Linked DNA regions of Homo sapiens: all the other regions are linked to region 4. The links come from fine-mapping of genetic effects on gene expression. A gene starts in region 4. Each other region holds a variant in brackets. All regions are shown on one strand. Distances are between the middles of the regions.

Evidence for each region. PIP is the estimated chance that this variant, and not a neighbour inherited with it, causes the effect. A credible set is the group of variants that fine-mapping cannot tell apart.
Region 1: its variant is the best candidate, but not a certain one, in a credible set for the expression of PIP4K2A in nasal epithelium (TOPMed, PIP 0.88).
Region 2: its variant is the best candidate, but not a certain one, in a credible set for the expression of PIP4K2A in testis (GTEx, PIP 0.87).
Region 3: its variant is the best candidate, but not a certain one, in a credible set for the expression of PIP4K2A in atrial appendage (GTEx, PIP 0.82).

The regions. Positions count from the first base shown.
Region 1 is chr10:22,587,665-22,595,899 of GRCh38, forward strand. PIP4K2A (phosphatidylinositol-5-phosphate 4-kinase type 2 alpha) reads right to left here. Exons shown (of 10, transcript NM_005028.5): 4 at 3,965-4,117. Among named protein-coding and RNA genes, the nearest start is that of PIP4K2A, 120 kb to the right of the region's middle. The variant C/T (reference allele first, on the strand shown) is at 3,720.
Region 2 is chr10:22,801,544-22,809,778 of GRCh38, forward strand. No RefSeq gene overlaps it. Among named protein-coding and RNA genes, the nearest start is that of PIP4K2A, 91 kb to the left of the region's middle. The variant G/C (reference allele first, on the strand shown) is at 3,625.
Region 3 is chr10:22,779,532-22,787,766 of GRCh38, forward strand. It overlaps the pseudogene RNU6-413P. Among named protein-coding and RNA genes, the nearest start is that of PIP4K2A, 69 kb to the left of the region's middle. The variant C/CT (reference allele first, on the strand shown) is at 4,002.
Region 4 is chr10:22,711,340-22,719,574 of GRCh38, forward strand. It overlaps PIP4K2A (phosphatidylinositol-5-phosphate 4-kinase type 2 alpha), which reads right to left and starts at 3,239. Exons shown (of 10, transcript NM_005028.5): 1 at 2,844-3,239. The coding sequence starts at 2,987. RefSeq lists silencers at 1,975-2,084, 2,385-2,504, 2,675-2,754, 3,055-3,724 and enhancers at 2,885-3,493, 3,494-4,101.

The sequences.
Region 1 (8,235 bases), 120 kb before region 4:
AGCCCACCACCCAGTAATATTCATCAAAATCTCGTCTGGAAGTGGCATACAAGAAGAACAGCCTGAAGAACATTCAAACAGAAGCCAGAATGGGAGAGGGCTAGGCAGCCGGTGTGCATTATAGCCTTTCTCTGTAGAACAGCATTTACTAAATGTAAACTACACACTGGTGTGGCCTTTGCTAATTGCTGCGGGTGTGATGTTTGACTCGGCGGACTGCATCTTCCTTCATGAACACCTGCCAACCTGAGCAGGGTCCCAGACCTGCCCTCAGTGAGCCTAGCAGGGGTCACCCCGAATAGATCAGTATCAAATAAGCTGTGTGAATGTTGAGACCTTTTATGAGGTTTCTGTGGAATTCTCTGATCATGTAATTAACACTGTTACTCTTCACTGCTGCTGTATTTTTAAAAACCTCTTCTATGTGAGATTTTGCTGAGATGTATATGAGTGGCATGTCCACCTTTAATGGTCAACGTTTGTGTCACCTATACATTTCCTTGTTCTTAATTTGCTTTCGTTTAAATGTAATTTAAAAATGGACAAATTAGCAAAACGGTGCTGCAACTGTGGCTGTATTTATACATGGCCTATACTGATAATTAGCAGCCTATACGGACAATTTTTTTTTAAGTTCTCTAACATTCTTGTATGTTTCTCAGCTTGTGGCAAGGATGTTGTTTTATCAGGTCAGATGTCCCTGTGTCCGCTCTGTGGGGAACTCCTTAGAGTCAACCCTGTTGCATCTTAGTACCAAGACCACTTACATTTCTCCTTGGCAACAGACTCAAAGTATCAAGCATGCTGGTCATCTTGGCATGAATATCTACGCTCATTCCAGGCTCCATTTTGTGCCTTTATCTTTCTGCCTCTTCCTTTTCTTTTTTTCATTTATTCTAGCTTGTATTTCCAACTTCTTTGAAGGCCACCTTAAATCCTTTCTGGAATAAGGTCAAGAGTGAATACATGAATAAATGAATGAATGAATGAAATGCAGGTGCAGAAGCTGAGTTCAGAGATCATCCAAGAGGCAGTTCCTAACAGGTTAGGATCTATGTCTCCTGACTTCTACTTAGTGCCCTTTAAATAATTTATATTAATAATGTGATTCCCAATCATTAAGACCCTACAAATTATATTTAAAATATTCTGTTTATAAAAAGAAAAAGTATAGATGTTGGATAAAGGAGACTTTTCTGAATAAAGAACTCACCAATAAGATAACAATTTTGTAGCAGTGGAACAGAAGGAAGTCTTTATACTGTTAAAGCCCCTGGGAGGTGTCAATAGACTTATTTTGATCCCACACTTATTTTATGTAACACTGGGGATATGTCAAATCCCTATGTTAGGTTACAATAACTAACCCAGAGAAAACATTTCAAATCGTGATTTTTGTAAAGTCAAAGGATGCTAAACTCAAAGTTGTCATCAAGAAGTTGGTACTTCAATTCTGTGTCACATTTTATTAGCATGGTATCATGGCCATTTTTTAGAACAATATGCTCTCATCAGTCATGAGATATCACTTCGCTTTGAATGTTCTGAGACAACTGAAAGAAAGTATAAAGAGAATGCATAAGTATGATATCAATTTCCAGAGGGGAAAAAATGAAAAAGTAGACAGTTTAAAAGGTGAAGAGTTCAAAGCTGCAACCTGTAATTCAATTCATTCAGATAACAGAGCCTCATGTCTTCCCCCTCACAGGTAGCATCCTGGCACTTTAAAATTTCCTGTAGAATAAGAGGCAGTAGCATAAGCAGTGTAGAACAAATTTCAAAAGGAATAGATATTATAAAAGATTTATTAGATATTAAATGAATTTAGAGGCTAATGATTTTAGAAAACAAACTAGAGGCAGTACCAAGTTTCAAGAAACAGAATATAGCTCAAAGATTTTTATAGACTTCACTGCAAGCAAAATGCAATTGATCATATTTGCAAAGATTGGAAGAATAAGCAACTGCCAAGAAAGAATCCATGATATTAGAGCATCATGCATGAACATAAAGTAATGCTTTTAAAGGGATGTTTAAACAGACATCTAGGAGCTCACAAGTCCAGGCCAGTGCTGCCTTCGAAGCAGATACTTAGTAAGTGTGATTGTTTATACTCGAGAATCCTTTTATTAATATATTCAGGACCTGCGGCACTTTATTTTGAATACCCATTGTGACAGCCAATTTTTACCTTTGGGGGATTGGGAGCTATTTAAGTTAAAAACACCGTGTGACTCTGCTATGAATGGAAAGTTTGTGTCCCCCAAAATGCTTACGTTGAAACCCTAATCCCCAAGTGATGGTATTAGGAGGTGGGACCTTTGAGAGCTAATTAGGTCATGAGCTTAGAGCCCTCATTATGTGATCAGTGCCCTTATTAGAAGTGACAGAAGAGTGCTTTTGATCCTATCCCACCCACCATGACCCTGCCAACACACGTGAGGCTACAGTGAGAAGCTGGCTGTCTGCAAACCAGGAAGAACCTGACCATACTGGCACCTTGATCTCAGACTTCAACCTCTAGAACTGTAAGAAATAGATTTCTGTCATTTAAGCTACCCAGTCTACGGTTTTTTATGACAGCTCAAGCTGACTAAGGTCCTAAAAGCAACAATGTGTGTATGTGTTTTAAACACCAGTTGTGAAGATGATTCCTGGGATGTTGCAACAGCAGACATGTTCATACCATATGACTACAATTTCTCCAAGTGACTTAGTTGTTACGTTATTTTTATACCATGGATGTTATCTTGATAATAGCGATGCTATGGCCACCACCACACATTGAGTATCTAGTGTGTGACAGACACTGTGCTAAGCACTTGACATGCAATTTCCTATTTAATCTTTAGAATCCATATTAGGTGTTATTATTATCCCGACTGTATAAACAAAGAAACTGTGGCTTCAAAATCCAGGCAGGGTGTGGAGGCTCACACCTGTAACCTTAGCACTTTGGGAGGCCAAGATGGGAGAACTGCTTGAGCCCAAGAGTTCAAGACCAGCCTGGGCAACATAGCAAAACTCCACCTCTATAAAAACACAACTTAAAAAAATTGGCCAGGCATGGTGGTGCATACCTGTGGTCCCAGCTACTTGGGAGGCTGGGGTGGGAGGACTGCTTGAGCCCAGGAGGTTGAGCATGCAGTGAGCTGTGATCACGCCACTGCACTTCAACCTGGCAACAGAGCAAGACCCTGTCTCTAAAAAACAACCAAGACCAGAAGTCACATGCTTAGTAAGCGACCTGGCTGGGATTTGAGCCCAGGATTGTCCAACGCTGGACTTCATGCTCTTATACTCCATGGTGAAGGAGGCCTCTCACAGCGCGGGCTGGGCCTTGGGAACATGTGCTCTACCAGAGAAGCTTGTGCTGGAATTTACTCCAGGAGAGACAGATTGCTGCTCCCAAGGATGGTCTACTTTACCTCCAGTGATTACAATGGAATTATGCTCGGGGATGAAAAGGGGGCAAGAAGCAGACCAACACCCACCTTCTAAAATCAGAGAGCTTGCTCCGTAGCAGATTGTGAATGGCGTGGGCCCTGCTGGGGCCAGGACAGAAGAACCAGTGACAGCAAAATAGGATTCGGAGGTGTAAATAGATACATACTCAGAGGTCAACACCTAATCTCTGGCACAGGCAAAAACTTCTGCAAAGTTGCCAAATCTTAAGCTGAATGATTTTAAAATCAGAGTAGTGATAACTGAAACTATTA[C/T]ACAAGAGTATTTAGGTTAAAAGTGTTATACAAATAATGAATGACCTTTATAGCACAAGCATGCCTAAAGGTTAACTGCCAGGAATCTGGCCACTGTAATTTTAGAACACAGGGTTAGAGGAGATGTTTATGTGAAATGTGTTCTTCTTGTTCTCTAACTATATATTTAAATCTCTGGCCTTGGTGAGAAATCGCTACGCATGTTAATCTTCTTGGAGTTTCAAATAAAGATCAAGAAAAATTACCTGGTGGTATTTCTTCAGGATGTTGTGCATTTCGGCCACGTCTTCACTGGTAATAGTCTTGATGATGTATCTTTTGTCGTAGGAAGTGTGAAAACGAGCTCCACTGCGGGCCTGGGAGTCGTTGGGGAGGGGTGCGCTCCTGGTCAGGGAATTCTTCCCGGGTGGGGTAAGAGGGGAAGGAAGGCGGGGGAAGATAACTAGTTAAAGGTGTGGCTTTCCGATTCCCAGATAATTTGTCATCATTGCAAGTTTTCAAAAACATTTGTGTGTGGGATAAATTGATAAGTAGGATGACAACATTTTTACATGCATCATAACTCACATTGCAAGCCTTTCAGATGAAATGAAAACAGCTTGAATTGTACTATGATTCTAATATCTTTAAAGCAGGCTAATGTCTAGAATTATAATCAAAGTAACTTTAATCACTTAGTTCTTTTCAGAGTTGGACAAGCTCTCAAAGTTTTCTTCTGAATAAAATTAGGTTCCAGTCATAAAAGAAAATTTTACAGTCACTGAGCATTTCCTTATATGACAGGTATCGTGCCAAGCATTTTGCACAGATTATTTCCCCCAATTCTGATAACATTCCCATGCAATGGTTACGATTGCTATCATCACTATTTTACAGATGAGGAGATGGGAATAAGAGAGGCTTAGTATCTGGGCAAAGGGCATATAGCTAATAAGGGAAGAGCTAGAATTCTGACTCCAGTGTGGCTGGCTCAGAATCCAAACTCTCAACTAGTAAACTACTCAACTAGTAAAGTACTTAACTTGCAGACTATGCTACCTGTGTGCCCCAGGAGGAGGAGGCAGGAGCCTGGGAGAGTGTCTTCTAAAACAGCTCCTCCTTAGGCGATTTGAATTTGGTCCATCCTCCACTCCCTACCACCATTTTTGAGAACTACTGATCTCCTGGAGGGTGGACAAGGACGGGCTCTGAGTAGGGGCTCTGCTGACATCATTCACTCCAAGATCTGGTTCATGCTAGTGACACTGGCTAGGTAGGTCTACCCTTCTCCTCCCATGTGACTCTTCCGTTCAGATCTCCTCTTTCTTACATCCTCCAAGAAGCCTCCTCCTTGCCCCAACCTCTTGACAATGGCCGTCCAGCCATGGGGTCTAGCAAACCCCTGGCCCCCAGAAAGTCTCGTCTCCATCCTTGCCGACTGCTCCTGAGCAGTGACTTTCACTCCTTGCCTGGCCCTGCGGGATGGCCTGTGTGGGATTCAAAGGCAAACATGCTTTCTCTCTTTAACTTGCTCTCTGAAGTGGGCATTCAAAGGCCTCAGTGGCCAAATGCTGTCAAGTTAAGGGAACACAGATACCTTCAGAGGGGCAGGTGATAGATAGCTCTGCCCATGAATTTGCAAAAGAAAGAGTGCCTTTCTGTCTAGTATATTCCAGTCTCTTTATCCTTTCCTTCCTTTCTAGATGAAATCAACAGGACTGAACCACCTGAGGTAGAATCCATTGCAGCAGTGCAGGGGTTTACGCAGGCCCTACCTATGCCTGAAGAGAAAAGTGGCCCATGAGCAAATCTTCATCTTCCAGGATTCTCACCTCACCACCCTGGCACCCCCTGTGGTGGATCACACGTTCTGCAATAGCACACCTTGATCTGAAGGCAAGCAGGCGCACCTGCCAGATGCAGAGTCCAGGCCACCAAGTAACTGAATTTGCTTTCCTTAGCTTATTAGAAAACTTGAGAGAAGGAAAAAAAAAAATCTACATAATCCCCAATGACTTTAAATAGCAAGACTTGGCAGTGTTCAGTTATTCTTAAGACAACTAAAATTTATTAGATAGACTGAGAATGATAAAAATGACTTTCAGGATGAAAATGCCTACATTAACAAGAGTTTAATTCTTAATTACATTTTTCTTTCCTAAAACATGAACAAGATCTCCTTTATACTACTTCCCACTTAGAACAAAAAGGAAGAAAATCAAAGTGAATTTCCCCTTGTGGGGTTTTAAATGCTAGCCCCCAAAAAGCAATTATTGCTCTTTGTTAGTGGTCTTACTTTTTTCTTGCAATCACTAATTTGCAAAAGGGTATTTCTTTCAAATAAAACAAGAACTCTAGGAACTGTAAGATTGCAGATTATCTTTGGGCATAAAATCAAAGTGGGAACAATCAAGTTTATGAAAGCCAGGTGGAGCAGACCAAGTGGAACAGACCTTAAACTCTGTCAAACTGACAATACGTGTAAAACAACTTTTGGGGGATGGGGAATAGTAAAGGAGAACTGTATTCAGCACAGGATAGAATTCCAGCAGCCTCAGTTTCATAGATCGTTTTCTTATGCACATTAGATAGGACAGTATAACGTCCTCTCATGGGCCAATAGGGTGAATCAAAAGCTGCATAGTCAGTGCATCTCAAACTTAACAAGCAACTGAATCACCCAGGGATCATGTGAAAATGCAGATTCTGATCCAGCAGGTCAGGGGTGGGGCATTTTCAGAAGTAGATGCTGCTGCTGGAGTGGGTCTGCAGACCACACATGAGAACCAAGGTCTACAGAATGGTGTTTACCCTGTGTTTTACTGGCATGCAGCACGTAAAGTCTAGCGTATTAAGTACATTATAATTACAGACTTACCGGCACTCATGCCTTTCCCATTATATTCTCTACACCTCTAGTTCGATTAAAATGGGAAACTTTATAGTTCAGAATAATAATTCATGGCATTTACTTTACTAATTAAAGAAGGGTTTAATAATACTATGTACCAGTACCAGGACAATGTACAGGGTTTTTTATTTTTATTTTTTGAGACAGGTTCTCACTGTGTTGCCCAGGCTGGAGTACAGTGGTGCGATCTTGGCTCACTGCAGCCTTGATCTCCTGGACTCAAGTGATTCTCGTGCCTCTGCCTCCTGAGTAGCTGGGATTATAGGCATGTGCCACCATGCCCAGCTAATTTTTTTATTTTTAATAGAGACAGGGTTTTGCCATTCTGGCCAGGGTGATCTCGAACTCCTGGCCTCAAGTGATCTATCTGCCTGCCTTGGCCTCCCAAAGTGCTGGGATTACAGGCATGAGCCACCATGCCCAGCGCAACATATGGGTTTATAAAGGGCTGGAAACGTAAAAGCAAATAATGTAGGAACTCCTTAGCTCAGATACTACCTCTTCCCCAGTTTGTGCCTTTTCTTTCAATTTCAAAGGCATTACTATAATCATATATGCAGACACTGGATTAGGATATCAGCCATGTCTTCACCCTGGGATATAAAACCTTAAAAATTCGAATCTTGATTCTGTCTCAAATCACCATTTTAATAATCCACGTGAGTAGCCCCAACCCACACTATCTGAATATTTTTAAGGTTCATGAACATGAAATAACCAATGAAGTTAGGAACACTGTGTCAAAACATAGAATGTACCTTTCATATCACTATGAATATAAAAATACATAAATCAAGTGTATTAAAAGCCTTATCTGATAAGGAGGAAATCAAAAGAGTTCATGCAATTCTATACAAAACACCTGATCCTTGGAATGATTCTAAGGCCTGGAAAAATCCAACTCATTATTTCATATTTATTTTCACAATATTCCTGTGAGAGAGGAAAAGCTAGATCCATTTTTCCCACCTCAAGATAAAGAAACTAGTGTACAATGGAGCCAAGCAATGTGCCTAAGATTCCTGTCTAAAGCTTTCTATGAACTAACCAAAAAGGGCGATTTACAAAGATAAGACTAAACTTCTGTCATCATAATCATAGACTTTTTGTAGCCTTTAAAATAAAGTAAAATTGTTTATGTATTTTTATTATCATTTACTTTCTTGCCTTCTTCCAAGGCATGCAGCAGACATGTGTTTTTAAAGGCAGCACAGTGGCTCATGCCTGTAGTCTCAGCGCTTTGGGGGCTGAGGTGGGCGGATCACTTGAGGCCAGGAGTTCGAGACCAGCCTGGGCAACGTGGTGAAACCCGGTCTCCACTAAAAATACAAAAATCAGCCAGGTGTGGTGGTGCATGCCTGTAATTCCAGCTACTTGGGAGGCTGAGGCACGAGAATTGTTTGAACCTGGGAGGCAGAGATTGCAATGAGCCGAGATCACACCACCGCACTCCAACCTGAGCAGCACAGGGTAATGGTGAGGGCACTGGTCTGAGATCTAGAACATTCATCAGTTCTTGTAGATTGCATTTAGTCTCTTTGAGCCTTAGTTTCCGGGTCTATGAAGTGATGGAAAATAAGCTTGGGGAGAGAACAGGCTGAATTAGACCTCTACCTTGGATCTTTT
Region 2 (8,235 bases), 90 kb after region 4:
CTGAACACTTTACTATATTCAGCCCAAGAGAATACTACCCACTGATGAACTAATAGAAGAAGCAGAAAACCAAATTAACAGAAAAATGCTTTAGGGAGCTGGGACAGAGTAGTATCATAATGTGCTATCAATATAACTTCAAGCCATTTTACCAAAAATTGAAAAAAAAAAAACACTGGAGACATTGTAATACCCAAAATTCTATACAGCACTACAGTGTGAACCAGCCAGTAACATTTAATCTAAATTCTTCAATAGCTCTGCCCTGGACCTGTGTGCTGTTCTTTAACTAAATAGCAAAATAGGTGGCTCAAGTGGTAAGATGCACGACCCATCTGTGTTTGAGTCAGGGAGAGCAGTTCCCAGCTGGATGGCTCTAGAAGTGTGAGAATGGCAGAGAGCATGATCTACTCACAGATGCTATACTAACAGCCAAAGAGGGGCCTGTTGTTTAGAGAAAGAAGCTATTTTTAAAGTTTAACACAACTGGAAAATTTTGACTCTGCAAGATCAGGAAGTCATATTTCATTTTGATGAGACCCTAGCAGAATTCTCTGTGCACACTCAGAATTATGTTTTAGAAACTAGAAATATCCACAAGGGAAGCTATCAAATTATAAATATCTTATAAACTAATGCCTAAGGATAATAGTAAAGTTGCTTGAATCAACGGAGATAAATCTTGGGGCTAGAAAGCAGGGTTTGTTTTTTGTTGTTGCTGTTGTTGTTGTTTTTTGAGATGGAGTTTTGCCCTTCTTGCCTTTTTGCCCAGGCTGGAGTGCAGTGGCACAATCTTGGCTCACTGCAACCTCCACCTCCCAGGTTCAAGCAATTTTCCTGCCTCAGCTTCCCGAGTAGTTGGTATTACAGGTGCCCACCACCACGGCCGGCTAATTTTTTGGATTTTTAGTAGAGATGGGGTTTCACCATGTTGGCTAGGCTGGTCTCAAACTCCTGACTTCAGGTGATCCTCCTGCCTCAGCCTCCCAAAGTGCTGGGATTACAGGCGTGAGACACCACACCCAGCCGGGCTTGTTCTCTTTAGGATCTCACAAAGTGCCTAACACTGTGGGTGCACAGTCAAGATTTCGTTGAGGGCTAACTCAGCCTTACTTTGCATGTACAACAATTATAAGAACGATAATCTCTCCAACAATATATAGATGTTAGATGTTGGAGGCTGCAACATCTACCTTCTTCAACCTCTGATGGATGCACTCAATGCAGACCTATCTTATGGGGATCAACAGGCACATTTCGTAAAATGGCCAGATCAACAAATCTTCTCTCCCGCTTTTTTAAATCTCCAGTGCAGGAAAAATGTTAGGGATACGTAATTCCAACTAGGGGCCAAAGTAGGGCTCCTGGCCCACCAATTTTTTTTTTAATATTTCCAGTCCCTAGAGTACCCTTGGGGGAGGAGTACCAAGTAGGTCTTACTGCACATTGTCACACTCAGGGCACAGGAAGCAGCAAAGAACATGGTTTCTTCTAGTCTATCAGGAAATGAAGAATTTGGGCAAAACCGATTGGGCAAAACAGATGTAGAAACACTACATCATGTGTGAAAGGCAGTCAAATGGATGTCAAGCTCTTCAATATCCCTCCCCAAAACTCTTTGATGGGGTGTAGGTAGTTGCCATTTCTTCTATGAGCCAAGTTGAAATTATAAGTAGGAAGCATGAATGTTTCTCCTCATAATAAAATAGACAAGCATGGTTTTAATTTTAGATCAAGGAGATTCAAGTTAGAGCTAAGCAACACTCTTCTTTCAGTAAGAATTATTCACAATGAAAACAGTTCTCAATGAAATGCTCAAGATGTGGCTTACAAGTGAATGCCTAATTAAAGTCAGACTTCCATATTGTTCATGCATGCACTATAAGAAACAAAAAGTGGGGCATACAGCCAAAAATAGGAGATTCTGGACACAGAAAACATAGACAAATGTGCTACAGTAACTCAACAAGATTGACAATAAATATTCCACAACTGATCATAAATGATTTGTTTTCAGAACAAATTAATGAAAGATTGAGTTGAAATTTTTGTTTATAAAAGAAATCAGAAATGTATGGGAAGATTAAGCTTCTATTTGTCACCCTGCAGGAATGTTCTATTTGGCTCCAGGGCTTTATTTAAGAATGAAGTTTTACTCTTCTATGTAGGAATGCTCAGGCTTGGAACCAAAATCTATCTGCAGAGCCACTGATCTCAAAACACAGATTATCCTCTCTCTTACCTCTCGCATGACTTAAGTTCCCATTCTTGAGCTATCTATTTCTCCTTCTCTGATGAAAACTTTTCAAATCTCACCCGTTAGAGGAAGTTGCTTTTCCTTTTGCCAAATGATCCAAATAATGTGTGGTTCAAGGTGATTGTTCTTCCAATCCTCCAGGTGCCTAATCTTGTAGGGCACACAACCTTTTTCCACGGGGCTTTATTCTGAGGAAGATTCTTTTGTGAATCAAGATACAGCTGCTATAACTTGAGAAAGTGTAATAAGACCCCTTGGGTGAGCCATTACTTTTGAGTGAAGAAGGTAGTACTGAAGATGAAATGCAGTGAGTTCACCGGCATCTGCGTCTGCTGCTGCCTGGCTCATCTAGGGTCCTAGGATTGCTACTTGACCACAATTCAGAAGATACCAAGAAGAACTCAAAGAAATGTATCATTCAGTTAATTTTCACATTAGCTTACCAGCTTCCAAATAATATAAACAAGGTGGATGGTGTAATTAAAGTGTCAACAAGATTTTAGAAAATGTATAGTTCATGGCACTGTGCTAGGAAAACATTACTCGTGTAGGTCTGTGGGTAAATATTTTACTAATATTTACCTAATAGTAAAGTTGTTATGCCCACTTTAGCTCCCTATTGATTTGGAAGACAGAGGATATTTTAGATGAAATGTATAAACAAAGGCAAATCTTGATTTGGATTCCTTTTTTTTTTCTTTTTCGAGACAGGGTCTCACTTTGTCATCCACAGTAGTGTGCAGTGGCGTGATCATAGTTCACTGCAGCCTTGACTTTCTGGGCTCAAGTGATCCTCCCACCTCAGCCTCCTAAGTAGCTGGTACTACAGGTACATGCCACCACTCCTGGCTAATTTTTTTTTTCTTATTTTTTTGTAAAGACAGGGTCTTATTGTGTTGTCCAGGCTGGTCTCTAACTAAAAGGCTCAAGCAATCTGCTTGCCTTGGCTTCCCTAAGGGCTGAGGCTACCATGCCCGACTTTGATTCAGATTGTTAGTGAATATCAGAAGGTTCATACAACCTTTATCATTCAGCATCATGCATTGTAGACATATACTTTTAAACAATCAAAAATAAGAAACCTGGAAAATAGAATTTTCTTGAAAAACATCTCCAGTAGTGCGAGGGACACATATTTTGTGATCACCGTCTGCTAAGGTGTATTTGCAGGTCTTCCTTTTCCCTCTTGCAATTGCTCCCTGTGTTTCCTTGTGAAGCTGTGTTACGTGAGCCCAAGCAGAGATTCCGCCTAGGTATTCTATTAGCTTTTACAGTAACCAGTGTGTAGAAAACACAAATGACGGAAGTCATTGCTTTTAAAGCCCTTCTCACAAATGAATTTCCTTTGGAGACGCAATATCCCAGGA[G/C]CATAATAGATTTTCCTCTCCCTTCTTCCATTTGAACAGACACGTTCACAGCTAACTAATCAGTTGCAATTCTAATCTATATTTCTGATTTGTTTACATGCATCATGCAGGCTGGCAATCTTTTGAATTTAAATGTGACTTAAAGTAAAATAAAATAAACCACAAGTAAATGACACAGAATTGCTAACAGTAGGAACTTTGTTTACATTCCACATTCTGAAAATATTTTGTTCAGCTGGCTAGGGAAACCACATGGTGGAGACAGACTGGGTGAGGATTTGGTTTACTGCCTGGCTGGAATCAGGATGGAAAAAGGGATGGCATGTGATATGGCTGTCTGTCACCTCAAATCCAGAGAAAGAACACATTCTCAGCACACATGTGATCTGTGCTTTAACAGAAGAGCTCTAATAATCCTAGCCAGATCATCACGTGCGCCTGGCACTGGGCCAGAACAATATGCCAGTCTATTGGAGTATTCAGATAATAACCGTCTCTTCATTTCTGCAGTCATCAGCAGGTGCTGCTTCGTACATGACTCTCTTGGAGTCTGTTTGTTCTGCAAGTCCTTTGTTCCTGCCTACTTTCTGAAATTATCCTCTAATACAGTCCTATTTCTCCCTTCCCACCTACATTTGAAGGTTTATTGAGAGGCTTTCGTATTCTTGTTGGTCTCGCTGCCTTTCCCAGATGATGACTCCAGCTCAATTAAATGAAACTTAGCAATAGCTGAGGAATGGTCACTAAAGGGACAAGATGCATTGAAAACACACAGATGCCCTTTAACGTGGGCTCTGTCCTCCAGAGCAGAACATTGCAGTGAATGCACCTGTACCAGGGTGCATCCTGGTACAATTACTTGGTGTAAGAAATGAGAAAGAAGGCAGGAATGGAGATGAAGACAGAATTTAGAAGGGAAGAATGAGATTTTAGCAGGCCAGTTCTAATAGCAGATGCTCCTAAGATGCAACTCAGAAAATTAGTTATTTCATTATCCCTTTGTTAGGAATATATTGCCCACATGAAGAGAACCAAAGGAAAAAAAAATTTTTAGAGATGTAAGGACACTGTTCACATTGTTGTTGTCTTTTTTTTCTTTGAAAAAACAAGTCTCCTTAAGCACATGTGTACCTTGGGATCTCATCAAGGAACTCATCCTGCTTAGGGATTTCAGGAGCTCCAACAGAGAGTGCTTGGAGTACTTAGAAGAGGGGTCAAGGCATGGGAAGAGCAGAAGTCTCCTCTCCCAGCCTTTGATGTGTCCATCTGGAAAGGAAAGAATGTCTAGTAGCCACTGTGAGAAGCAGAAGAACTGAAACTGTTCCAGATTCTATAGGCATGTCTCCAATTCTCTGCCCTCCGGGGAAATTAAAGGCAGCCCCTGCTGCCTCGGCACCTTCCCTTGCCTCTGTCTTCCCTTTCCCCGCCCTGGCCCAAGCTCACCTTGACCAGCTCCAATCTCTGTTCTCTGAGTCTGGTGACAGGTCTTGAAAAGCACTGCCCTGCTTGGATGTTCTTTGGCCACACTCGGAGGAGTCTTGCTGTCCATTTTCAGGGGAGTGGTGTCCCATCCTCCAGCCTGGGCCTGCTTTCTGCTTGGTGTTCTTTAGTCCCAAGCTTCACAGACCTACTCCTCCATGCGCCCTCAGCCTTTCCTTCCAAACTTGCAGGCTTTGGAGAGAGCCTTTCAACTATGAGAGCCTCTCATAGTTATCAAAGAGCAACACATCAAGCTCTAGAATGAGAAAAGAGAAAACAAATGGAATTCTGGAAAAATTCTCCAGTAAATTTATAAATGCTTAGAGAAAAACCTTTCCCCCTATGACACAGACTTGTTCATGAAACAGAAGAATAATTTAGTTAATACTTTTAGTTCTCAATGAAAGAGGATATTTGGAACACACACATGCATACACACACACACACAGAGATCAAACTTTAATCAAAAGCAATAAAAAGCAGACTTAACACTGTAGAAAACTCTACCATGTGTAGATAACTAGCTTAAGGAAATGATTTAGATTGTGAAGGAATTTTTTTTTTTTTTTTTACTTCATTGAGTTCTAAGTCATTTACAATTGTCCATTTTACGTATACAGTTGGATGAGTTTTGGTCAACGCACACAGTTGTGCAACTATAATCACAAGAAGGTTTCCAACAGTTTTATCACTCTCAGACCTTCCTTTGAGCCCCTCTGCAGTAAGTCTCTACCCCCACTTCAGTCCTTAGCCCAAGGAAACTAGTAATCTGCTTTCCGTCACTGTAGTTTTGCTTTTATAGAAGTGTTTATCAATGAAGTCATACAATATATACTCTTTTGTGTCTGGTTTCTTTCACTTAGCAGAAGTGTTTTTGCGATTCATTCATGTTGTTCATTTTAGTAGTTCATTTCTTTTTATTGCTGGGTCCCTTGTATGGATACATCACATTTTGTTTATTCATAGGTAAGCATTTGGGCTGTTTCCATTTTGGAGGTTATTATGAATAACGCTACTGTGAGCATTCACATGAAAGTCTTTACGTGAACATATGTTTCCATTTCTTTTGGGTAGGTATCCAGGGATGAAAATGTCGGTACATTGGTATGTTGGTACATGCATATGGTAAATGCATATTTAAACTTTAAAGAAACTGTCAAACTGTTTTTCCAAAGATTTGCAGCATTTTGCATTCTTACCATCAATAGATGAGGGTTCCAGTCACACCACATCCTCATGTACCCTTGGTGTTATCTTAATTTTAGCCATTTTAATGGATGCATTTTGTTGTCTAATTTTAGATTTAATCTGTATTTCTCTACTGATTGATGATATTAAATAAACATCTTTCTGTGTGCTTCTTGGCCATTCATTTATTTTTATTTCGTAAATGTGTAGTCAAAACTTTTTTTGCCCATTTTTTCCATTTGGATTATTTGTATTCTTCTTCTTGAGTTTTAAGAGTTCTTTTTATATTCGGGGTACAAATCTTTTGTCATATCTATGTTTATTTTATATTCATATATAAATACAGATTTCCAATCCATGGCTTGTCTCTTCTTTTTTTCTTTTCTATTTTTGAGACAGGGTCTTGCTCTGTCACTCAGGCTGGAGTGCACCCTCAGCTCACTGTGGTGCCATCTCAGCTTACTGCAATGTCTGCCTCCTGGGTTCAAGTGATTCTCGTGCCTCAGCCTCCCAAGTAGCTGGGATTACAAGCATGTGTCACCATGCCCAGCTAATTTTTGTAGTTTTAGTAGAGACGGGGTTTCACTATCTTGACCAGGCTGGTCTCAAACTCCTGGCCTCAAGTGATCTGGCCGCCTTGGCCTCCCAAAATGAAGTCTTTTCATTTTTTAATGGTATTTTTCAAGAAGCAAACATTATTAACTTTGATGGAGTTCAATTTAACAGGTTTTTTTCCTTTATAGTTTGTGCTTTTTATCCCCCATCTAAAAAATCTTTGCCCTAACCCAAAGCCACAAGAATATTTTCCTGTGTTTTCTTCTGAAGTAAATATTTTTTATTTATTTATTTACATTAAAAAGAGTATTTATTGAGTACTTACTATATGCCAGGCTTGGAGCACTTCATATATATTATTTCAATAAATCTTCATAACAATCCTAGGAGGTAGGCTGTTTTGGTATTTTGTTTGTTTTATATTGTTTTTATACGTAATTACCTGCTCTACTGTTCTCTTTTAAAATTTCAATAGTTTGGGGAGAACAGGTGGTGTTTGGTGCATGGAAAAGTTCTTTAGTGGTGATTTCTGAGGTTTAGGTGCATCCATCACCCAAGCAGTGCACATTGTACCTAATGTGTAGTCTTTTATCCCTCACCCCACTCCCATCCTTCTTGCCCTCACTCCAGGCCCCAAAGCCCATTATATCATTCTTATGCCTTTGTGTCCTTATTGCTTAGCTCCCTCTTATAAGCGAGAACGTAAAATGTTTGGTTTTTCATTCCTGAGTTACTTCACTTAGAATAATAGTCTCCAACTCCAATCAGCTTTCTGCGAATGCCACTATTTTGTTCCTTTTTATGGCTGAGTAGTATTCCATGGTATCATAGATAATACATTATCTTTATTCACTGTTGGCTGATGGGCATTTAGGCTGGTCTCATAGTTTTGCAATTGTGAATTGTGCCGCTATAAGCATGAGTGTGCAGTTTCTTTTTCTTTTTCTTTTTTTTTTGACGAGATGAAGTCTTGCTCTGTCACCCAGTTGGGAGTGCAATGGTGCAATTTCAACTCACTGCAACCTCCACCTCCTGGGTTCAAGCCATTCTCCTGCCTCAGACTCCCAAGTAGTTGGGATTACAGGCGTGTGCCACCATGTGTGGCTAATTTTTTGTATTTTTAGTAGAGATTGGGTTTCACCATGTTGGCCAGGCTGGTCTTGAACACCTGACCTCAAGTAATCTGCCCACCTCAGCCTCCCAAAGTGCTGGGATTACAGGTGTGAGCCACCACACTCGGCAAGTTTCTTTTTCATATAATGACTTCTTTTCCTCTGGGTCGATACCCAGTAGTGGCATTGTTGGATGAAATAGTAGTTCTACTTTTAGTTCTTCAAGGAACCTCTATACTGTTTTCCATAGTGGTTGTACTAGTTTACGTTCTTACCA
Region 3 (8,235 bases), 68 kb after region 4:
GAGAAAGACAAAGCAGTCACTTCTGCAAAAAATTAACCAATACCTTAACTCAGAGTCCAGACACTTTGACCCTTACCTTAGAGCAGTGTGTGGCTCATCTGCAGCCAATAACATGGAATTAGAGGTGGCTGCTGTCCTTCCTCTCTGTTGGATAGTCTTATTCTGAGAACTGAATCATCAGTCTCAAGACATGGAGATAAAAGGAATGGTTCTGGCATCAGATCGCTGAGGTTGAAAGCCAGCTCTGTCATTCCTGGAGGTGACTTTGGGCAAATCAGTTTGTCTTAATAAACCTCAGTTTCTTCATCTGTGAAGTGGGTCTATACTAGTCTACCACACATGGGTGTTGTAAGGATTAAAGCATATAAACCTTGCAAAACATCTAACGCAATGCCTAGCACAGTGTGTACTAAAATGTGAAGAATCATTCTAGCATTATAATCTTATTGTAGCTAGAAGGAGGCCCTCATATGCTGGAAGTCCCTGAAATGTGCCACAAAAAGGGCTCACTTCTGGAGCTTTATTTTACACACACACACACACACACACACACACACACACACACACACACGTTAATGTAATCAAACAAGGAGTTAGTATACTTTTAGTGGAAAATGAATTAGTTGAATTAAAAAAAAGCAAAGACATGTGTGCATCAGAAGTTCATGACCTAACCAGAAATAAAATCCCACACAAGCAGAAATAGTAATCTATTCCACTCCCCAGAAAAAGCAATCTCCTTGGCTGCCAGCCCAGTGAAGTGCAGCAACCTCTGTCACTGAGGACACTGCTCTCTGCCCTGGCATCTCTTCTTAGCTGCTGTGGGATGTGGGACCTGGGAACACATTTTTAAAAAACTGAATGAAAAACACATCAGAGTCCCCAGGAGATAAAAACTTAGTATCTTCTACGGTGACATGGACTTCTGAGTACTCATCTCTGGAGGCCGAAATATCCAAACTCAAGGACGAAAGGTCTGTTCCATCTGGAAGAAGCGTAAGGATTTCCTCAAGAAGCATCTGTACAGCTATTCTCTGTGCAGATGGTAGCCTGGCCAGTGCCATAGTGAGACTGAGGAAAGGGTCCTTCTACCACCACACAGTCTCCCTGGGGATGAGAACCTCTTCTTTGCAAGCTCATGAATATTGATGAGTCCAAACCACACTCGAAAGAGTCAGAACATATTGTAAAAGCCAAATTGCAAGTTGGCTCCTAAAGCTTGGGCAAAGGAGCAAATAATTTCAGCCCTGGGACTGGGCTGGGGCTGGCACAGCGCCTGAGCCTAAAAAGGAGGGCTGAGAGAACCTTGGCTCAAACCTCTTGTGGATCAAGAGGAAAGGAGGAGGAAGTGGGAGTCCAGGGGCTTTCATTCCCTGTAAACTCTGCCAACCAGTCATCCCGAAGTCAGAAGGCTGGAAGTCCCTGAAATGTGCCACAAAAAAGAGCTCACTTCTGGAGCTTTATTTTACACACACACACACACACACGCACGCACACACATTAATGTAATCAAACAAGGAGTTAGTGGTGTATTTTTTTTTTTTGGATGGAGTCTCACTCTGTCGCGCAGGCTGGAGTTAATGGTGCAGTCTTGGCTCACTGCAACCTCGGCCTCCTGGTCCAAGTGATTCTCCTGCCTCAGCCTCCCAAGTAGCTAGGATTACAGGCATCTGCCACTTCGCCCGGCTAATTTTTGTATTTTTAGTAGAGACGGGTTTCACCATGTTGGTCTGGCTGGTCTTGAACTCCTGACCTCAGGTGATCCACCTGCCTCGGCCTCCCAAAGTGCTGGGATTACAGGTGTGAGCCACTGCGGCCAGCCCGAGTTAGTGTACTTTTATAGGAAAATGAATTAGTTGTCTTCCCCAAGACAGAGTGCATGAGAAAAGAACCCATTGCCAGAGACTATACAAGCAAATCTGGCATAAATAAGAACTTCATGGGCAACAAATATTTACTGGGCACTCACTAAGTATCATGTTCTGTGCTAGGCACTGGAAATATGATGGAAAAAAGGAAACGATTCCTGATTTCAAGTTTACAGTGGTAGAAGTGTGGTGGGAGGGGAAGTAAAAACAATAACAAGCAAAATATAATGTATTGTGGTACGTTGTTGCATGCATCACTTTGTTCCTTTATATTGCCAGCTAGTGTGCTACAATTTGCTTTTCCATACACTTGCTGATGACCTTTGATGGGCTTCCAGTTTGGGATTATTATGAAGAGAGCTGTTATGAACATTTATGTCTTCAAGTGAACATACATTTTTGTTTATCTTGGGTTAATATCTAGGAATAGAGTTGCAGAATCATATGGTAAATGTATATTTCACTTCATAAGAAACTGACACACTTTTCCAAACTGGCTGGACCATTTTGCATTCCTATTAGCAGTGTATGAGAGTCCCAGGTGCTTCACAACCTTGTCAACATTTGATATTGCCAATTCAAACAATTTTAGCCATTGTAGACGGTGTATAGCAGTAGCCCATTGTGGTCTTATTTGCATTTCCCTGCTGATGAATAATGTTGAGTGTTTTTTAGATGTGCTTTTTGTGCCATTAGTACATCTTCTTTGGGGAAATGTCTATTCAAATCTTTTACCAATTAAAAAAATCAAGGACTGTGCCTCATTATTGAAGTTTGAGATTCTTTACAAATTCTGGACGTAAGTCCTTTATTTTCTAATCTGTGTTTTGCCTTTTCACTTTCTTAACTGTATTATTTTTTGAGACCCCTCCCCATCCTTTGGTAACTGCTTGCTATTCTACTCTCTACTTCTATGATAACAACATTTTAGATTCCACCTATGAGTGAGATCATATAGTACTTGCCTTTCTGTGCCTGGCTTATTTCACTTAACATACGGTGGAAGAGACTGGGTGCAGTGGCTCATGCCTGTAATCCCAGCACTTTGGGAGGCCGAGGTGGGCTGATCACTTGAGGTCAGAAGTTCAATACCAGCCTGGCCAACATGGTGAAACCCCATCTGTACTAAAAAAATTACAAAAATTAGCCAGGCTTGGTGGCGGGTGCCTGTAATCCCAGCTACTCGGGAGGCTGAAGCAGGAGAGTTGCTTGAACCTGGGAGGTGGAGGTTGCAGTGATCCAAGATCACGACACTACTACAGCCTGGGTGACAGAGTGAGACTCTGTCTAAAAAACAACAACAACAACAACAAAAATAAGGTGGAAGAGTAGAAGTTTCACATTTTGATGATATCTCCAATGTGCTAATTTTTTAATGCATGGTTTGTACACTTTTTGTCCCATCTAAGAAATCTTTGCCCCAATCACAAAGGTTTTCCCTCCTGTTTTGTTGAAGTTTTATGGTTTCAGATTTTCCATTTAGGTCTAGAATACATTTTGTGTCAATTTTTCTAGAATACATTTTGTGTCAGACATTGAGGGCATTTTTGGGCACGGTGGCTCATGCCTGTAATCCCAGCACTTTGGGAAGCTGAGGTGGATCACTTGAGGCCAGGAGTTGGAGACCAGCCTGGGCAACATAGGGAGACCCCTTACAAAAGACTAAAACATCAGCCGGGTGTGGCAGCACATACCTGTAGCCCCAGCTACGCAGGAGGCTGAGCCCAAGGGGTTGAGACTGCAGCGAGCCGTGATCATGCCACTGAACTCTAGCCTAGGTAACAGAGCAAGACCCTGTCTAAAAAAAAAAAAAAAAAAAGAAAGAGAGAGAGAGACAGAGAGAGAAGGAAAAAGAAAGGAAGGAAGGAAGGAAGGAAGAAAGAATCACCTTTTCCCTTTTGATATCTTGGTACTTTTATTGAAAACTGAAAACCAATTGACTATTTATGCGTGGGCCTATTTTTGAACTCTCAGTTTCATGGATCTATATGTCTGTCCTTATGCTAACATCCCACTGTCTTATTTTAGCTTTATAGTAAGCCTTGAAATTGACCAGTGATTGTTCTTTTTTTTTCTCCAAAATTATTTTGCTTATTCTAGGATTCTGCATTTCTACATAAATTTCTTTTTTCT[C/CT]TTTTTTTGAGATGGAATCTCGCTCCATCACCCGGGCTGGAGTGCAGTGGTGCTATCTCAGCTCACTGCAACCTTTGCCTCTTGGGTTCAAGAGTTTCTCCTGCCTGTCTCCTGAGTAGCTGGGATTACAGGAGCGCACCACCACACCTGGTTAATTTTTGTATTTTTAGGGGTTTCACCATGTTGGCCAGGCTGGTCTCGAACTCCTGACCTCAGGTGATCTGCCTGTTTTGGCCTCCCAAAGTGCTAGGATTACAGGCGTGACCCACTGCGCCCCGCCTGCAATTCTATATAAATTTCTACATAAAAAATTCGCTTGATTTTGATTGAGACAGCACTGACTCACAATTTAGGGAGAATTGACATCTTAACAATACCAAGTCAACTGAACTATGAACATGTGTGTCTCACTATTTATTGAGATATTCTTTAATTTATCTCAGCAAAGTCTTGGACTTTTCTCTGTGCAGTTGCCCAACCTTATCTGCAGAGGACACGTTCCAATAACCCCAGCTATGCCTCAAACTGTGGAGAGTACTGACCCCTATATATCCTATGTTTTTTTAATATCTACTTACCTATGATAAAGTTTAATTTATAAATTTGGCATAGTAAGAGAGTAACAATAACTAATAATAAAGCAGAAGAATTATAACAAACTGTAATAAAAGTTGTGTGAATGTGGTCTCTCAAAATATCTTCATATTTTTGGATTGTAGTTGACTGTAGATAACTGAAAACTGCTGAAAAGGAAAAGACTGATTTGGTTACTATACATACCATCATTATTTTGTTATGTTTATTCCTAAATAAATCATGTTTTGTGATGCCATTTTAAACATATTGTTAAAATGTAAATTTCCGATTGTTTGTTGCTACCATATAGAAATATAATTGATTTGTGTATGTTGACCTTGTATCCTGTGACGTTGTTTAAATTTGCTTCTTAGCTGTGGTTACTTTTTGGTAGATTCCTTTGGATTTTCTGTATCAACAGGCACATTGCTGGTGCATAGTGACAGTTTTACATATACATTTCCAAAGATAGGAATTTTATTTTGGTTTCTTGCCTTATAACATTAACTGGAAACACGCACTGAATAGAAGTGACAAGAGGGAACATCTTGCCTTCTTCCCGATCTTAGGAGAAAATAATTCAGTTTTAAATTATGGCATTAGCTGTAGGTTTTTGGTGGATTTCCTCTATCACATTGAGAAAGTTTTCTCCTATTTCTAGTTTGCTAAGGGCTTTTTGTTTGTTTGTTTTAAATCATGAATGGGTATTGAAATTTGTCAAATGCTTTTCTGCACCTTTTAAGATGAAACTATATGAATCATACAGTTTCTCCTTTTTAGTCTGCTAGTATGATGAATTATATTTATTGATTTTTGCATGTTGACTCAATATTACATTTCTAGGATAAACCCCACTTGTTCATGATGTATTCTTTTATTATATGTAGCTGGATTTGATTTACTGAAATTCTGTTAAGGATTTTTGTGTCTGTGTTCATAAGAAATATTGGTCTGTAGTTTTCTACCTTTTAAATTTCTTTTTCTAGTGTTATCAGGGTAAAACTAGCCGCATAAAGTGAACTGGAAAGTCTTCTTTCTATGCTTTTGTGCAGGACTGGTTTTATTCCTCCCTTAAACATTCAGTAGAATTCATCAGTCAAGCCTCTGAATCTATGGGTTTTCTTTGTAGAAAGGTTTATGACTGCAACTTCACTTTCTTTAATATAAATAGGGATGTTTAAATTATTTCTCTTTGAGTGAGCTTTAGTTGTTCTGATCTTTCAAGGAATGTATTTTTATCTAATTTGATGAATTTATTGTTTTAAGTTTATTCATAACTTTTTTTATTATCCTTTTAGTAGGGTATAGAAATTGTTCATTCTGGGTACTTGTAATTGTGTGTTCTTTATCTATTTTTCTTGTTTAAGTTGGCTAAAGATTTACCAGCTGTGTTTTCAAAGACTGGTTTTTGTTTTCATTGATTTTCTCTACTGTTTGTCCATTTATTATTCTATTGATTTCTGGTTATTTCTTCCCTTCCACTTACTTTGGGTTAAATTGCTCTTCTTTTTCTATTTTCTTAAGGTGGAAATGTAGACATTTAACTATAAAGTTTTCTACTTTCCAACATAAGTATTTAAACTTATAAATTTCTGGCCGGGTGCAGTGGCTCATGTCTGTAATCCTAACACTTTGGGAGGTCGAGGCGGTTGGATCAGCTGAGGTCAGGAGTTCAAGACCAGCCTGGCCAAGGTGGTGAAAACCCATCTCTACTGAAAATACAAAAATTAGCCGGGTATGGTGGCGCATGCCTGTAGTCCCAGCTACTCAGGAGGCTGAGGCAGGAGAATCGCTTGAATCCAGGAGGTGGAGGTTGCAGTGAGCCGAGATTGTGTCACTGCACTCCAGCCTGGGTGACAGAGTGAGACTCTGTCTCAAAAAAAAAAAAAAAAAAAAGTTATAAATTTCCTTTTTAGCACTGTTTTAAATGATTCCCACACTTTTTATATGTGTGGGAATATGCTTTCATTTTCATGCCTTTCAAAATATTTTCTTATTTCACTTGTGATTTTTTTATTGGTGTCAGATAATATATTTTAGAAATTAATCCTTTAAATTGTATTAAGACTTGTTTTATGGACCCAATATGGTCTATCTTGATAAATTCTCCGTGTACACTTGAAAAGAATGTTTATTCTGCAGTTGTTGAGTGAGTGTTTTATAAATGCCAATTAATTTAAGTAGTTAGTAGTGTTGTTCAAGTTTCATGCATCCTTACTGGTTTTCTTCCCACATATTTTAACAATTATTGAGAGAGGAGTGTTGAAGTTTATAACTGTAATTGTGTCTATTTCTTCTTCTACTTCTACCAGTGTTTGCTTCATATATTTTGAAGCTCTGTGAGCACTGTTGTGTTTTCTGATCCATTTCCCATTATGATCCCCAATATGAAATCTACTTTGTATAATATTAATACAGCCAATTCTCTTACTTTTGCTTAATGCTTGCATGACATTCTTTTACTTTTTTGTAACATTTTGGGGAATGTTTTGTTATTCTTTTTTTTAACCTGTCCATGTCTTTATATTTAAAGTCAGTTTCTTATAGACAACATACATATAGTTAGGTCTTACTTTTTTAATCCAATCTGACAATCTTTTAATGGACTGTCTAGACCACTTACATTCAATAGAATTATTGATATAGTTGAGTTTTAATTTACCATATTGATATTTGTTTTCCCTTTGTCCCATCTATTTTATGTTTTCTTTTTCCTTTGTTCCTTTATTCATTCATATTAATCAAATTATTTTTAGATTCTATTTTCTCTCCACTATTGGCTTACTAGCAATTCTTCTTTTTTAAGGTTTCTTTTTAGTGGTTGCTCCAGGGTTTACAATATTTAACTAATCACAGCCTACTTTCAGATAACATTATATGATTTCACATGACATGTAAGAAACTTACAACAGCATACTTTCATTCTGCTCCTCCTGTCCTCTGTGTCATTGTTGTAATATATTTTACTTCTATGTAGGTAATGAAATCCACAGACTTTGTTACGTTTGCTTGAAATAGTCAAATATCTTTTAAAGAGATTAAGTAGGAAAAACATGTTTTTATATTTGCCATTTCCAGTGTTCTTTATTACACTGTGTGAATTAAAATTTTTACAAGTTATTTTCTTTCTGCCTGAAGAGGTTCCTTTAACATTTCTGCAGTTCTGCTGGTGATGAAATAGTTGTTCTCATTTTACTAGGAACATCTTTCTTTTTCATTTTCTTTTTTGGTACAATATGGTTACATTTATAATATTGGAACATGTATGTTTAAAAATGCATGGAGTACTTGCTTCAGCAGCACATATACTAAAATTGGAATAATACAGACAAAATTGGCTTGGCCCCTGCACAAGGATGACACACAAATTCAAGAAGAGTTCCACATTTTTGTATTTAATGCACTCAACTGTGCACTTAAAAATAGTAGATTTTATGTTATATATATTTTACCTCAATAAAAAACATAGACATGGGTCTAGAAATACACATATAAAACTGTTAATATTGGCTTACTCCTTGGAAGAGGAGATGGGAGTGAAAGATAACTTTTAGGATTTAACTCCAATTTTTAAACTTTTGTTTGGAAATTATTTTAAACACAAAAAATTTGCAGGAGTTTACTCCGATTACCCCATTTGCTTCACCATTCTCAATCT
Region 4 (8,235 bases):
ACCCTTAGTTCACAGTCTCTTAAAATCACCATAGATTTCCTTCCCCTGTAGTCAAGGTCTTGAAAATTCCCTGAATGTTGCTGCATTTGGAAGGTTATAATAGTAAGACAACTTTTATATAGTATTCTACAAATCCTAGTATAACACTGTGCACCTAGTAGACTGAAAAAACAGAATCTTGAGTTAGACTTGGAAATCATCCAAACAACCTCAGTTCACAGATGCAAACACTGATGCCAAAACCTGACCTTAACATGCCCAAGGTCAACAGTTAGAATTTAAGAAAAACTTAAAGCGCAGATTCAATGAGCGTTTTACCACAGTATGTGGAAGATGCTCGTATACAACACCATGCTTGTTTGTTCTTAAGACTGCTGACATATTTATTCTCACATTATACTATAAACTTTGGTGCACAGAAGGTCATATAAAACATTTATCTAATATCAGACATTGTCACCTAAAATGAAATCAAACCAGAAATACATGGCATCTAAGGGTTTTAGATTTCATGTTTATATTACACCTCCATTCTTTTTTCAAAAATAATATAGTAAAGAAAATAGACATTTTGAAAAAAAAGGCTGTGAAACAGACCTTTCTTATGTCAACTCAGAGCCCTCAAAATAAAGACAGTTGGATAAAAATATTAGAGGTGTTTTAGCAATTCTTCCCACAGTAGCTGGCACTGTATGTGCCCAATATATATCTGTTGAATGAGTAACATGCTTACATTTATATGAAATGGAAACTTCACTCCTCTGGTTGTGGATACTTAGAACTGCCAACTTCTCTTGAGAGCAAAAGAAAATAACACCAAATGTACTATTTACAAGTCATACACTATGAAACACTTAAGTAGTTTCAAAATATTTCCAATTAGCAAGAAACTCTAAAACAAATGTAGCAATTCATAAATATAAGGTAGCAACGTAAGTGGTTACAGTAAAACATACACAATTACAAGATTTTTTAAGGCAAACTGGAATTCAGACGAGTTCCCAGAAAGCACACTCTTTTTCGGCAGCATATTGTTGACACTACCTTACTAAATTAAACCCCGAGACAGAAACACTCTCCTGACCAAAACACCAGAACTCCAAAGGAGATAAAAGCACCATAAATATGAGTAAGCACTACAGTATTCATCCTTTTTTTAAATTGTAAGTTTCTATTCTAGTAATAAGGGACCCAAAAACTACTAACATAAATAATAAAAGAGCTTAACAAAATTATACATAACTCTACATTGTAAACTTATTACTTAGGAAAAATTGCATTTCATTTTCCGTAATAAAACTTGAGAGAGGAGTTTTTGGTGCAGTAATGCATGCTCTTGTAACAACTTACATTCCCAAATAGCTAAAGAAGTTGCCAGGAAGTTAAAATGAACTTCAGTGAGTCAGTCATTAAGCTGGATAAAAATAATCATTTCTCAACTTTTCCAAAAACACTCACTCCATGCAAACACGATCGATCCTGATACTGTTTTGCCCTTCCCCCTGCTCAGCTTGGGGAAGAAAAATACAAAAACGATGCTTTTAGGCATTTTAAACAACTTCACTACATTGAGGGTGTGTGTGTGTGTGTGTGTGTGTGTGTCTGTGTGTGTGTTTTCCGAAAAACCAGCATGGTTTTCTGTCATTTCCATTACGCTGAAAAGGACATACAGACATCCATCGAAATCAAAAGCAGGGAAAGCGAACTTACACTTTTCCCCAGATGCTAAGTGACTGCAGTGGCTAAGGTCATGGTCAAAATTCACAGCTCGTTTAAACTTTCCTGGCTGAGCCAACAGCTCCGATCATGTTTCCTGATCCTATCGAAGTGGATTAAAACTGCAGGAGTTTCTCGCTGTCAGATCAGCAGGAGGCTATTTCAGACCCTCGAACCGCAGTCCGCATAGCCCGCAGCGGCGCATCCTCCAATCCCCGACTGTGCGTGACGCTAACCTTTCCACGCGTTCTCCAGCCTTTCCCACACCCCCCACAGCGGGTGCGGCCAACTCGGGACCCCCTCCGCCCGCGCCCGCCGGGACCCCCGCCTGCTGTCCCCGCCCCGGCCGCCCTTCCGCAGTCGGTGACTTCTGCCTGACTCCCCAAAGTGGGGGGAGGCGACGAAGGGAGGAAGACTCCCCGCCAAGGGCTCTCCAGCCCGCACAGCGGCAGGGCGATGCGGGAGAAGCGCAGGGATGCCGCCCGACGCCAGAGCCATATTTACATCGGCTGCTGCTTTGCCAAAAAGCCGACTTGTGCCCAGTAATATTGCCTTTAAAGGAAAAAGAAAGGACCTAAGCACTAAAGCTGCTGCCCCAAATCTGCTCGCGCTCCGGTATCCTCGCCCCAGTGCCCCAGTGGGAGGCTCGCACGCGCCCAGCCCGGGACAGGTACACCTGCCCGCAAGCGGAAGACGCGGGCGCCGCGCGGCCCCCACACCGGGTAGCGGTCGCCCGGACCCGGCCCCCAGCAGCTCCCGCCGGGGCTGACAGCCGAGGCGCCGTGCCCCGCACAAACTTCCTACCTCCCAGGCTGCGGGGACCGACCTGCGGGCGGGCGGGCGGACCGGGGGCGGCACTGGCACCCACCGTGAGACTCACATGCACACGGGACCCCCGACCCGCACCGGGCCATAGATCTAAAGGGGACGCAAGTGGTGGTGCCTGGGCGGCCCAGAGGGCTGGGGGCACGCGCCGCGGGGCTGGGGGCTTCGAGGCGGGCGAGCAGCCGGAGGTCCAGGGCTGACTCCGGCTCCCCGCCCCGCAGCAGCTGCAGCCGGAGGAGGAGGGGAACGAGGAGGAAGAGGAGGAGGAGGAAGGGGACCGCGCGCCGCAGCTGAGCCCTTACCGAGTGGTTTACCCCCCACATGAGGACGCTGAGCAGCGGGTCGCTGGCCCGAAACAGCTTCACTTTCTGCGCTACGAAGTGCTTCTTCTTGGTCTTGGTCTTGCTCGCCAGGACAGAGGACCCTAGGTTGCCGGGGGTCGCCATGGCCGCCTCCTATGTCCCCTCCACCGCCGTGCTCCCGAGGCCGGGGACCCGCCCTCTCTACACCCCGGCCCGGGGAGGCAGCCGCATCCCCCCGGCGGCGGCCCCGGCGCGCCGCGCTCCGCTCCGCCCGCCGCCGCCGGCGCGCTCAGCCCCACTCGGCTCGCTCCGCCCGCTCGGCCCGGCAGACTGCGCTCGGCTCGCGCCCCGGCCCGTATCCTGCGCCCGCCGCGGATCCGCGCTCAGCCCGCGGCTGGACCCGGCGCGCGGCGAGCGGCTTCCGCGTTGGGCGCCGGCGTCATGACGCAGGGGGCGGGCGGGCAGGCGGGAGGCGGCTGCGGCGCCGCGGGCGGGGCACTGGGTGCGGGGCGCGGGGCGCGGCAGCTGGACCGTTAGGCTGCGCCTTCCCGCCCCGGCTCCGCTGCAGCCGGGCCGCCCCCTGTGCGCGGGCGACCTCCGGGCGTTCGCTCCCTGCCCGCGGAGGAGGCCGTGGGTTGCGAGCGGGAGCCTGGGGACCCCGGCTAGGCGTCCCCTGCCGCTCCCCAAGGAGGGAGAGGACAGAGTGGGCAGAGTGAGGAGGTTGGGGAGAGGAGCCCCCAGGCGTCGATCAGGCGAAGGAGGGAGGCTCATGCACTCACCCACGCCACGAGTCAGGAGACCCAGCCAGGTGTGAAATGCTGCAGGGAGACCAGGGCTTCCCAGCACCGAGGGGAAGGACCCGGGCACATTGCCGGGTCAGTCCCTGAAATGAACTTAATACTTTTGTGCGGATAACCGTCTGGCCTTTCAGACCCTCGATATGGGCCTCCTGGAGCCATTCAAGAGGGAGACTCCCACGTAATAGGCTGGGCTGTCACTGCCAACCCACTCCGTGCCCGGGGCAGGAACCTCGGACCTCATCGAGAGCCCTTGGCTTAACCAGTAGAATCATGCCCCAAAGTGCACCTTCTTCCAATCCATCACTATGGTACTTGCCATCCCTGCCTGTTTTCCAGTGCACTCACCGTCCGTGGAAATCTGTTCACCGTCTTCCTCCAGATACACCTAAATGTAGCCCTTATTATGCTGAGAATACTTGGCCTACCTCAGGAAGCTGCCATTCCAAGTATGTCTAAAACCCTGCTGCCCCCATATCGTCCTTGCAGTCGTCATCCTGTGCTATTTACTCTGACCCAGCTCACCAGTCCTCACGGAGTAGGTTCTTGGAAACTGTCACCTTAAGCAAAACAACATATAACAAAACCAAATTTGCCATAGGCTGACATATAAAAAAAGAGTTAAGTTCCTACAGCATTATTTCCGGTTACAAAAACATCACCGAACTTCAAAGTAAAAATTCAAAACACTTCTAATATTAAACATTAAAATAAATGTGAGCTATACCTCTTTTTTATTTTTATTTTTTCCCTTGAGATAGGGTCTCGCTGTGTCAACCAGGCTGGGGGTGCAGTGGTGCAATCACAGCTCACTGCAGGCTCTACTTCCCCAGACTCAGGTGATTCTCCCACTTCAGACTCCCCAGTAGTTGAGACTACAGGCGCGCACCACCAAGCCTGGATAAACTTCTTGTATTTTTGGTAGAGATGGGGTTTCACCATGCTGCCCAGGTTGGTCTCGAACTCCTGGGCTTAAGGAATCTGCCCACCTTGGCCTCCTAAAGTGCTGGGAATACAGGCACCAGCCACTGCACCTGGCCTACCTACATTTTTTAAAGATTGATAAAAACAAGATAATGGTTTGCCAAATTTCTAGTGATTAAGTGAGCGATGGTTGCTGTGGTGCTGGGTTAAGTCAAGGAATAAGTGTTTGCAAAGCAAAAGTTGCCTGTAGGACCTGCTGCTACCATGAAATTCAAAAACAATCACAAATATGGTAGCTGAGTGCACTCCTATCTCATTTATTGTCGTGCATTTTTATGATTAATGTACACTTACATATTTTTATTTTACAGTCATTTGTTTCACGGATTTATTCATTTTTCCAACTCATTTATTCCAGTTCAAGGTCACAGATAGTGGGAGCCTTATCCCAGCTGCTCAGCTTGGGCAAAAGGTGGGAACCATCCCTGGATAGGATGCCATTCTGTTGCAAGACACACACACACACACACACACACACACACACACCACACACACACACACACACCCCTACACTCACTTAAACTGGGACCATTTAGGAAGGGGGCAGTGATTCATGCCTGTAGTCCCAGCACTTTGGGAGGCATGAGGCAGGTGGACTGCTTGAGCCCAGGAGTTGGAGACCAGCCTGAGCAATATGGTGAAACCCCATCTCTACCATAAATACAAAAATTAACCAGGCATGGTGGTACACACCTGTAGTCTCAGCTATTCTGGAGGCTGCAGTAGGCGGATTGCTTGAGCCCAGGAGTTGGAGGCTGCAGTGAGCTGTGATAATGCCACTACACTCTAGCTTGGGTAATAGATGGAGACCCCGTCTCTTAAAACAAAAAAAAAAAAAGAAAAGAAAAACTACTGGTATCATGTAGACAAGCCTATGAACTGAACGTGCATGTCTTTAAGATGTGAGAGGAAACCAAGGTACCCAAAGAAAACTCTTGCAGGCACGAGGAGAACCTGCAAATACAAACAGTGGTCCCGGCTAGAAATCCATTTTTTTCTCATCAACATTATAACAAAACAACATTGAACAAAATGACAGTATTTGAGGACCCGCTGTAAGTTGTCTGTTGTCATTATTACTCCACTCAAATATAGTAGATACCTTCTGTGCCCTTGGCAGACTGCTTGGTCCTGTCAGGGAGATGAAGGATGACAGGCCATTATCCCTTTAGGATCTTGAGTCTCCTCAGGGGTTGAGGGGAGGTCATGTGGTCACCTTCATTTGCTCCTATTCTTTCTTTGACTGTTTTTTAAGTCCCCTCGTCGTAATTTCCTGCTTGCTTTCATCCAAAATGATATCTGCTTCTCCAGCATCAACCATCACTGCTCTTAGTGGTTTAAAAAAGCCCAAAACCTAAATTTTTAGTGAGACATCACGGGGACTGAGCTGTAGCTCTCCCACTTACTTGAGCAAATCACTTAACCTCTCCCAGCCTCGGGTTCTTTATGTTAACAGTAACTATCATCAGACACAAATGTCACTTTAGGAACTATTTTGAACCTAGTAATATAATCCTCCCCTACCTACATTATAGGATGTTTGTTAGAATCAAAATCAATAGTAGATAATGGCAATGAAAACCCTTTGTAAACCAGACAACACAATAGAAAATGTAGAGTGCTTGCAAGTAACTCATAAACTCTTCCCCGACCCCAGAGAAATGCCTGGTTGCACATTTGTACATCATTTTTCCACAGGCATCTTTTAAAAGTGTCTAAAACCATCTGGGCATGCTGGCTGATGCCTGTAATCCCAGCACTTTTGGGACGCCAAGATGGGAGAATCACTTGAGCCCAGGAGTTCAAGGGTAGCCTGGATATAATAGCGAGATCTCATTTCTACCAAAAAAAAAAAAAAAAATTTAAATTAGCTGCACATGGTGGTATGCATCCTGTGGTCTCAGTTACTTGGGAGGCTGAGGCAGGAGGATCACTGAGGCTGCAGTGAGCTATGACTGCACCACTGCACTCCAGCCTGGGCAACAGAGCAAGACCCTATCTCAAAAAAAAAAAAAAAGATATCTAAAGCCAAGTTTGACATCTTTCCCCATCCACAAGTTACTTTATTTCTTGTATTATATTGGAAATGGCATTCATATCACTCGGTTACCCCAGCTGGAAGTTCTTTTATTTAACAAATTTTCATTGGCCAGGCTTGAAGGCTTACCATCATCATCAATTATTGCCTTTCACCACCACCCAACCTAAACTCCTTTATTGGATCCTGCCCTTGAAAACAATTAGACTCAAAAATCCTCTCTTCCCTGATGCTTTCCTGATCCTCCTAATTCAAATTCATCCTTCCACCTCAGTGCTTCCATAGCATTTATTTGTTTCATAATAGCTATATTATACTTAATTTTATATTAATAATGCAAGACAATAGGCTTGCTGCAACTGCCAAAAAACTGAATTTAGTGATGACAGAGTGCTGAATGACCCTAGAGGAAGAGGGGATGGATACCTGTTGTTAGGAGAGGCTCCGCCTTAGGAAAGCAGCAATCTGTGGGTGGGTGCAGAGGCCAATAGCACCATGTGAGGGACAGATAGGGGCATAGTGTGGTATTTTTAGGTAGTTATGAGGAGACTTGCAGGTTTCAAAGGACAGAATTTCTGGTGATTTAACATGTTTTGAAAGCCATCTAACACAATACCATTCACAAATACATCATTAAATTATTTATTTATTTATTTTATTATTTATTTTTTTTGAGACAGGGTCTCACTCTGACACCCAGGCTGGAGTGCAGTGGCAAGAACACAGCTCACTGCAGCCTTGAACTCCTGACCTCAAGCCATCTCCTGCCTTATTAAATGATTTTGCCAATAACCTTTCACATTAGCTTTGTGCTCTGTGGAGGGTATGTGTGATGCAAGAGTTCTAGAGTCACAGAAATGACCTTAGCTCACGCCTGTCATCCCAGAGCTTTGGCAGGCCAAGGCAGGAGGATCGCTTGAGCCCAGGAGTTTGAGGTTACAGTGAGCTCTGATTGTGCCACTGCACTCCAGCCTGGGCAACAGAGTGAGACCGTCTCTAAAAATAAGAAAGAAAAGGAAAGAAGAACAAAGTGACCTCAAAATGTGTAATCCAATTCTCAAATTGTATGCATTCGATAGACAATTGATATCTAGAGAAATGTAATAAGTAATTTCTTGGGCAATAAGAAACTTTGAAGGCAAGGACCATGGTGTACCCACTTCTAGGGCGTCTCAGTGAACCCTGAATACTCCCTTTCCCATAGCACCCGTGGTGAAATTTTGGTGAATAAAGAAAAAAGGAATATTTTATCTCTCATAACAAAGTTACATGTAAAGTTTGCGTAGCCAGAAAATGTTTTGTGCAAGGTTCCATTCAGAAATACTTTGTTAGGAAATTAGGCTAGACATAATATTTAAACTCGAGGGCTAGATACTACATGCGGACTTAGCCACCTAGCAATTTGATCGCTGTTTTCCTTTGGGGTTTGCATGCTAATGAGACAAAGTGTATGTCCTGCTTGTTCTTGGTTCAGCCCACCTGGTTCAAGCTGCTTACCTTGTCAAGCTGCCAAACCATCAACATTCGCCAAAGGTCTGGAAGAGAGGCATAGATCTTCCTTCTCTAGGAGGAA